2 linked regions of the Homo sapiens genome follow. The protein of the gene in region 1 purifies or fractionates together with the protein of each later gene. This does not show direct contact. Each region holds a gene or a part of one and is shown in the gene's direction. Other genes may lie near its edges. The genes, in order: RUNX2 and TCF15.

Region 1 (3,820 bases):
TAACTGAGGTACTATAGTTCTGTCATGAAATATAATCAAAATTTTTTTGCATGTAAGTTAACAAATGTCAATCTATAAAACCAGTAACAGGGATTAGGCATCTACTAGGAATTTCAAGACTAAAATAATCAATCTTATAAAATCCAAAGATGTTATTTTCCAGTTATAAACTTAAGTAACAATAATTAAAAACTGATATCAGTTAAACAAAGTATTAGAGTTTATAAGGGCAAATATGAATGGAATTAATTTGCTAATAGATTCCTATTTATAAATATTATCTCAAAGAACAACTCTGGCTTGAAGCTAAACAGGTATATTTTCTCATTGACCATGTAACCTGGGTAAACAATTTAAGCATTGAATTTCTAATTTTTCTATGATAATTGCTAGAATTAACTTTCTTTTTAAATTTCTGTACTGAACTTCCCAGTTTAAGACTTCAAATTCCCAATATAATTTTAAGTGAAAAGATATAATTTTACTAAATGATTACAAATTATTTAAATGTATCTAAACAATGTGAATTTACTTTGAAGCTTAAAAGAAAGGATCATGACATTTATTTTACTATGTAATATGGTATTACATTTTACAACATGTCAACCTACTGCTGTATCACTATAACGATCCTAGAAAATCCATGTGTATCAAAAAGGTACACAGTATGGATTCTCTTCAATCAATTACAATTTTATTATAAGATACTTTAATGCAAACACAGCTCATTAAAATACATTTTTTTAGATAAAAGTAAATTCTCATTTTATTTCATAAACTGTCAGATTACAGATATCTGTAACAACTGTACAGGATCACAGAAAGGAAACTTCTTTATGCTAACAATCCACATTATATCAATCACTGTGTTTTCCATAAAGCTGATACCTGTGAAAGTACATAAGCATTTCATACTAAGAACCTAACACCCAATTCAAAAATATTAAGACACCATGAAGTAATCTATGAGAAAACTCCCATCAAGACAACAGCATCTTAACATTAGGCAGGATAAATGGTTACAAAAGATAATCTAATAAGATTAATTTTTTTACCTCTCATGAAATCTGTAAAGCATTTCGGTAATTCAGCTTTTGACAAAATGCAGAAAAACTTGCTACTGCTCTTATAAGAGTCAATGCAAAAATGAAATATTTAAGAAGATAATGCCTATGGAGATACTACTTACAAAGACAATGTGCTACAGTGTATTTCTAAAGAAATGGAAATATACAAGTCAATGTACTCCAACTTTTGATCATTAATCCAACCTCCTTTCCACAGAAGAAACTCCTTTTCACATATTATAAACTCCAGTGTCCACCCAGAATTCTTCTATTCTCCCAGTTTTCAAAACCAAACACATATACATTATTTCTCTCTCTGTAATTTAGAAGGAAAACTTAACATTTTAAAAACTTTTTACCACTAGTAACCACTTCATTTTAAAAGTGTTAGCTAGATAAGGACAATGAGTACTGTCACGAAAGCTTTATTCTTGATTATGTAGTAAAGATTTAACAATATCCCTCCCTTATAACACGCATAAGCATATTGCAGAATATTTTTGTACACCAATAGGACTAGAGAAAACACATAAAGTGATCTGTTTTTAACATTATCACTCACAAGTACCCAGGAAGAAAATTTAGAGCCATGTGCTGATTATTAGGCTTATTTTTATTTTCATAAATATTCTGGTCCTATCAAGACACAAGACACACTAAAATCAGAATCTATCAAGATACACTTAAATATTTTTTAAAACATCAAAATACTTGGCTTAAATTGCTAAATTATTTAATTATTAAATGGTTAAACCACTCTATATATGTACAATAAATTTTTACTCAGACGTATTCAAACAATTTTCTTGACTATAAAATTAAATCCTGTGCTCCAAGAAATACTGTAACACAGTATTTTTAATAAAGTATTTACTTACAAAGTAAATACATATTAGATGTACAAAAAGATAGGAAGTGATTTTCTATAATATAACTTCATTAATAATACATGTAACTCAAATTTTCTACCTCTGTTTTAAACTTTCTTCATTCAAATACATGGTCAATTCACTTAATTTTTTTGATCCAGAAACATCTTAAATGCTGTTTTAAAGGAAACTTTAATAAAAATGGCCTTACTCATTATTATAAACTGGCATAAAAATATTTTTTGAAACTTGCTGTGAAAACAGTGTGATCTGAAAACTTACATACTTAAAACTTATGACATGAACACAAAAAATGCAAGCAAATGCATAAAACTACATAGCAACAATAATATAGTGAGAAGCCAACCCCGAACATAGGAGATATACATATGCTTTCTAAAATAAAAGCTCAAATTAAAGCTTGCCTTTTGAACTGCCCATATGAACAGAACAACATGCCAATGACTTACAGAATTTTTTTCTAAACTGGCAAGACTAAAAAGAATCACATCCAATCCCTATTTTGCAATTATAATGTGTGATACTTTCTTTAACCATAAGACTGTCATTTATTCTAAATTTGCTGGAAAAGCTTGCCATTGCATTTTTCCTGTACGTACCTCTTCCTTATCAATTATGGTGTATCTCCAGCATTCGAAGAAAAAAAAGCTCCAAAACTTTAACTGCATTTAAAATATATAATTAAATCAATATATACAAGGGTTACTCTAAAAATACTCATTTCTAGAAGGCCAGAAAATCTTATTTTTTTAAGCTGATGCATCTACACATAGAAAGCAACTTTTAGTAAGTTCTTTTGCTACGCCATAATGATCTGCTCCAGAAACTCAAGGGTACCTAAAACAACGGACTACCTGTTCTAGCCATGCTTAGGAATGTGTCCAAATCATTTTTATTGATTTAACCTTTATAGGAATGCTACATATCCTCAGAGCAAAACATTTTGAATGTATTTATAATATGATACACTTCTAGAAGCCATGAAAAAGAAAGCTAAAAACAAATCTAAGACGCCCCTCCACTGTTGGTTGTTATGTTTATTTTTGTTTATTTGAAACAAATATTAAATACATATTAAATAATTCTTTTTGCGAAAACTCACTTTGGTACTACTGTAAGTAGAAATAAGATTTTATTTTTTTAGAGAAAAAGTATATTTAAGTAAATTCTAACTTTAAGAAACAAAACTCCTGACTTGACAATGATGTTATCACCTATAAATTTTAAAGGATTCTAAATGCTTCTTTCATACTCTAATTACACATTAATCATGGAACCTATAAACAAATCAAACTTAAACTTACAGAATTTAGTCTTTATTGAATAAACTTAAGTTGTACTCTAGTTTTCATCCTCAGAGTTTACAGATAAAGTTCTGTGTAGCCTATCTTTCTAGCTTTCTGTAAGTTGTACTTTACAAATGGTTTCAACAGCTAATGCCTGTATTAGGTATGTTTGCCAAATAATTCACAATATTATGCTTCCTCACATTATGGTTCAGCATTTGCTAACTTAAACATCACCTCTAAAGAAGTTATACTTTCACTGCAGATTGTTCTCTCAAAAAAGGCAAACAACTTTTGAGCATTTCCAGATGTAGCTCTCATAAAAAAAAAAAATTATAGGCAACTTCTCAAGAAATTCTAAAATCAGTAATAAAAATACAATAAAACTGGTATCATTTCTGATTACTTCAAATGATCACATATAAGCTTATATAAAAAGCTGATGGTACTATATTTTGAATTAAGAAACTTTGACAGCTACAAGAGCACTGATTTCAGGTAGCTGCCAGTAGGTAAAACAACCAAGTGTATTTCAGTGTCAAACAAGATTCTGCTGAACTGGAATTTAGGAAGCTCT
Region 2 (4,311 bases), on another chromosome or scaffold:
TCAGGGAAGCCAGGAAAGCACAGCATGGCAGAGCTGCAGGCATCGTCAGGAAAACAGACGCCCAGAGGAGCCAAAATGCACCTAGAAGCCTTTCAACTCCACTCCCTGCGCTCTGTCTGCTACACCGGCTGCCACTCGGGCTTATTTTCAAGGCCAAGTGGATGCTGGTTTAGCTAGTGCCTGGAGAGAGCTGAGCAGCAGGCACGAGTGAGATCGAGACCCCGGCAACCACCTTTGGCTCAGCAATTCTCTGAAGAGGACACGTCAGGCTGAACAATCTAAGGTTTCTAGAAGGCAAGCAGGCATTGAGGAAAGATAGCCCGTGTGTGTGTGATGGGATGGTGGTGGTAGGATTCCAAGAGGTAGTGAAACCGGACAGGCTGGAGCTAGCGCCGCCACTCCCACCTGTACGACTGAAGGCCGGAGCTCTCTGACCTGTAACTCAGGGCTGCCATCCTGCAGCCTCAGCTGGGCGCAATAGAGTATATAGCACCGAGTCTGGTACACAGTAGTTCCTTAACCAAAACGTCAGTTCCGTGAGGGTGAAGAATTTATTTTGTTAATGGCTGTATCCTCAGACCTAAAACCATGTCTGACACATAGTAGGGACCCAACGAATATTTGTTGAAAAAACGAACGAACTACTGGTGTTTGTGTATTGTGGTTTTGTTTTGCTTTTTTTTTTCTTCTTCTTTTTAAGTTTGTCTTCAGGGACAAGACACTGTCGAATCCTCATTTGGAAAGATTATAGCTTTTCTCCAAGTGTTCTCCACGGACACCACCACTATCACCAATGGCTTGTTACAAAATGTAGGTTCCTGGGCCCGTTCCAGAACTGCTCAATCAGAATGGGAGCAATTTGGGACTCTGTAATAGCAAAAGCCCCTTCCCCAGTTCTTACGCACGTGAAAGCTGCAGAACTACAGGATTAGAATTGGAGGGCAGGCAGACACTAGCTGTTTCTCTGCAATCTGAACGTTCCGAACGAGGAAACTGAGGCCCAGAGAGGAGAAAGGGATCTGCCCGCGTCTCCCAGGTGGTCCAGGCTGGAGACAAAAAGTTCGGATCTGGGCCCACCCCGGCCGACCCTCCCAGACCTCCAGCATCTGCCGGGCTAGCCAGCCGGGAACGGGGGCCTTCGGGGTGGGCCGCCGGCTCCCGGGCCGCTTTCAACCTGGGGGACGGAGGCGGTGGGAGCGTCGCCATTGGCCAGGGCGCGGCGGACGCCTCCCCATTGGCCGGGCGGACGCCTCCCCATTGGCCGGGCGGAGCCCTCCGCCCCCGGCCGGGGCGGCCTTGCCATTGGCCCCTCCCTCGCCTATAAGGCGGGGGCCGGCGGGGCCGTGGGAGCGCGCGGGAGCGCACGGCGGGGCGCGGCCGACGCTGGGACGCGGCGCACGGAGGGACGCGGCCGGCGCCCATGGCGTTCGCGCTGCTGCGGCCCGTCGGCGCGCACGTGCTGTACCCGGACGTGCGGCTGCTGAGCGAGGACGAGGAGAACCGCAGCGAGAGCGACGCGTCGGACCAGTCGTTCGGCTGCTGCGAGGGCCCGGAGGCGGCGCGGCGCGGCCCGGGCCCCGGGGGCGGGCGGCGGGCGGGCGGCGGCGGCGGCGCGGGCCCCGTGGTGGTGGTGCGACAGCGGCAGGCGGCCAACGCGCGGGAGCGGGACCGCACTCAGAGCGTGAACACGGCCTTCACGGCGCTGCGCACGCTCATCCCCACCGAGCCGGTGGACCGCAAGCTGTCCAAGATCGAGACCGTGCGCCTGGCGTCCAGCTACATCGCGCACCTGGCCAACGTGCTGCTGCTGGGCGACTCGGCCGACGACGGGCAGCCGTGCTTCCGTGCCGCGGGCAGTGCCAAGGGCGCCGTCCCCGCCGCCGCCGACGGCGGCCGCCAGCCGCGCTCCATCTGCACCTTCTGCCTCAGCAACCAGCGCAAGGGGGTGAGTGTGCTGCGTCCCTCGCTGCGGCCGCCAGGTCGGGGTAGGCGGGGGGCAGCGCCTCTGCGGGAACCGGAGAGGTGCAGGGGTCCCCAACGAGGCCAGGGGGAAGCGACGTGGAATTCGTGCTGGGTGCGGCACCCCAAGCCCAGAACCACTGACTTAATGCCCAGGCCCCCAAACAGAAGGATGCGGGAAAACCCAGAGTTCGGGTCTGATTTAACTGCTCAGTGTGGGATATCCCCTCCAACGAAAGGTGTGCTGGAACTTCCTTCCTGCTGGGAAGACGGCATGAGGACTGAGTAACAAAGACCCATCTTTTATGGAGTCTTCCTCTGTGCCGATGCGCTCCACATCCACTTTTTTGCCTTCACAAGAATCCCTTCAGGCAGGTAGTTTTTCTGCCCATTTTATCCTGATGAGGATCTGAGCATCAGAGATGGGATCACCTGCCCACATTTACTCAGCTGGGAAGCCGGGGCGCTGGCCCTGGGCTTGCCCGGTGTGTGTTGCCCCCACCTTGAAATAATTGTCCCCTGTCCTAAGATCTAACCCAAGAGCAGGAGACTGAGAAGAAAGGAGGCCACAAACCGCCAACCGAGAGCCTGAGGTACCCAGCGGATGAGCAGTAGGAGTGAAGAAGGGGCCCTCTGAGAGTCCCCAGCCCCCAAAAGGACGTGGTGTTGGGAGAGGGCACTCTTGGGTCAGCTGGAGGGAGCTGGTGTGCAGCTCCTGCAATGTGTCCTGGGCAAGAAAGTGGATCAGGCTGGTAGGGGTGGGCGGGGGCTGTGTGGCAGCAGAGGTGGCCTCTTGGCTGAAACCTTGCCCAGGCTCCAAGGAACCTGCTTCATCCCCCGACCGTGTGCCTTTCTGGCCTGGGCTTTTCCTACAGTAAAGAAGCCTGTCTAACAACTTGTATTCCAGCAGCTACCATTTACATCCGGGGAAACTGAGGCTGAGAGAGTACTGACTTTTGGTGGCCAAGTGGAAGGGCATGGGGAATTGGAGTTAGGCCCCTGACTCCCTGCTGTTTGGTTCTCACAGCTGCCGTTGGTCCCTTGCTCCACCCTGTTCTGCGGAGGCCTCTGCATCTTGGCCTGAGACCACCCTCTGTCTGGCTCATCAGATATCCAGCCTGGTTGCTCAACACTTGGCTGCCTCAGTTGCCCTGAATCGTCGGTCTTCTTAGCCTCAGGCTTGTGCCCTCTCCAGGGTCCCTGCTGCTCCCAGCTGTGGGCCCCTGTCAGTGCCCCAGGCTGGGCTGAGAAGCCAGGAGTGGGCCTTTAAGGCTTCCTGGGATGGGAGGGCCTGAAGGGGCTCTCAGGGATACTCCCTGACTGCCTTTCACCCATTCATTCCAGTTAGCAACCCTTAGCTACCCAACAGCTGCCTTCTGTTGGCTCTGAGAACCCCAGAGAAGCAGGTTGTAGGTCCCCACCCTTCCACCAGTCAGGACCTGACAGTACAGCCCCAGGGTCAGGGCAGGGAGATGAAGATGAGGATGCTGTGGTCTGATGGTGGGGGAGGGGAAGCACAAAGGGATTCTCAGAGCCCAGAGAAAGCCTCCAACCCAGGGTGAGTGCTGACAGGGTTTCTGTGTCTCATTTCTGAAGGATGCTTTAGAACAGGGGCAGGCCGATGAAGGGGTAGGAAAGGGTGTTCTAGGATTGGGGCATACAGCAAGAGCTCAGGCCTAGAGAAGGAAGAGGGAAGAGGTTAAAAGTGGCAGGAGTGCAGAGGGGGAGCACAATGGCCAATAACAGCAGTGACAGCAGCCTTCATGAGCACTGATCTGTGCTAAGCGCTCTTTATGATTTATCATTAAAATCCTGCAACAGCCAGGAATGAGGCGCTGTGGTTATCCCCACTTGCTTAGAGGTGCTGCCAGTGGCGCAGAGACACACAGTCAGTGATGGAACCAGGATTCAAACTCAGGCCTGCCTGGTTGGGACGTGGGATAGGTTACAGAGGGAAGTCCCTGTAACTGTCATGTGTCCACCCCCATAGCAAGCAGGCTGGGGGACTTCTCTGCAGGTCTCAGGCCTGTCCCACAGCTCACAGGGGCCTCCCCTGGGCCTGGCCGCTTCCCTGGGATCTGTCTATGGGACCAAGAACTCAGCCAAATTTGGCTGTAGAAACCATGCTCTCAACCCCACGGTCTCCTCTGGGAATAGGCGAGAGGGGCAATCCTGGCCAGCTATGGCCCCTTGAAGACTCTGCTGGAAGAAAACTGGCTGGCTTGGGGAGCTCTTGCTCCCTTCTGAGCTTTGTGGGCCAGAAGAGCTTTAAGACCCAAGACCCCGTTCCTTTACCCTGAGCCACCACCTCCCTCCCATCCTGGCCAGTCTGGAGTTGGGGTTGCCGTGGAA

Evidence for each region.
Region 2: the proteins of RUNX2 (region 1) and TCF15 purify together in Homo sapiens (affinity purification with mass spectrometry; one large-scale study listed by BioGRID and IntAct). This does not show direct contact.

The regions. Positions count from the first base shown.
Region 1 is NC_000006.12:45,334,781-45,338,600, forward strand, and holds part of RUNX2 (runt-related transcription factor 2), read left to right. Parts: intron 1-3,820. UniProt on the Homo sapiens protein: Transcription factor involved in osteoblastic differentiation and skeletal morphogenesis. Essential for the maturation of osteoblasts and both intramembranous and endochondral ossification.
Region 2 is NC_000020.11:607,347-611,657, reverse strand, and holds the start of TCF15 (transcription factor 15), read left to right. Parts: upstream 1-1,348; 5' UTR 1,349-1,420; coding exon 1,421-1,945; intron 1,946-4,311. UniProt on the Homo sapiens protein: Early transcription factor that plays a key role in somitogenesis, paraxial mesoderm development and regulation of stem cell pluripotency. Essential for the mesenchymal to epithelial transition associated with somite formation.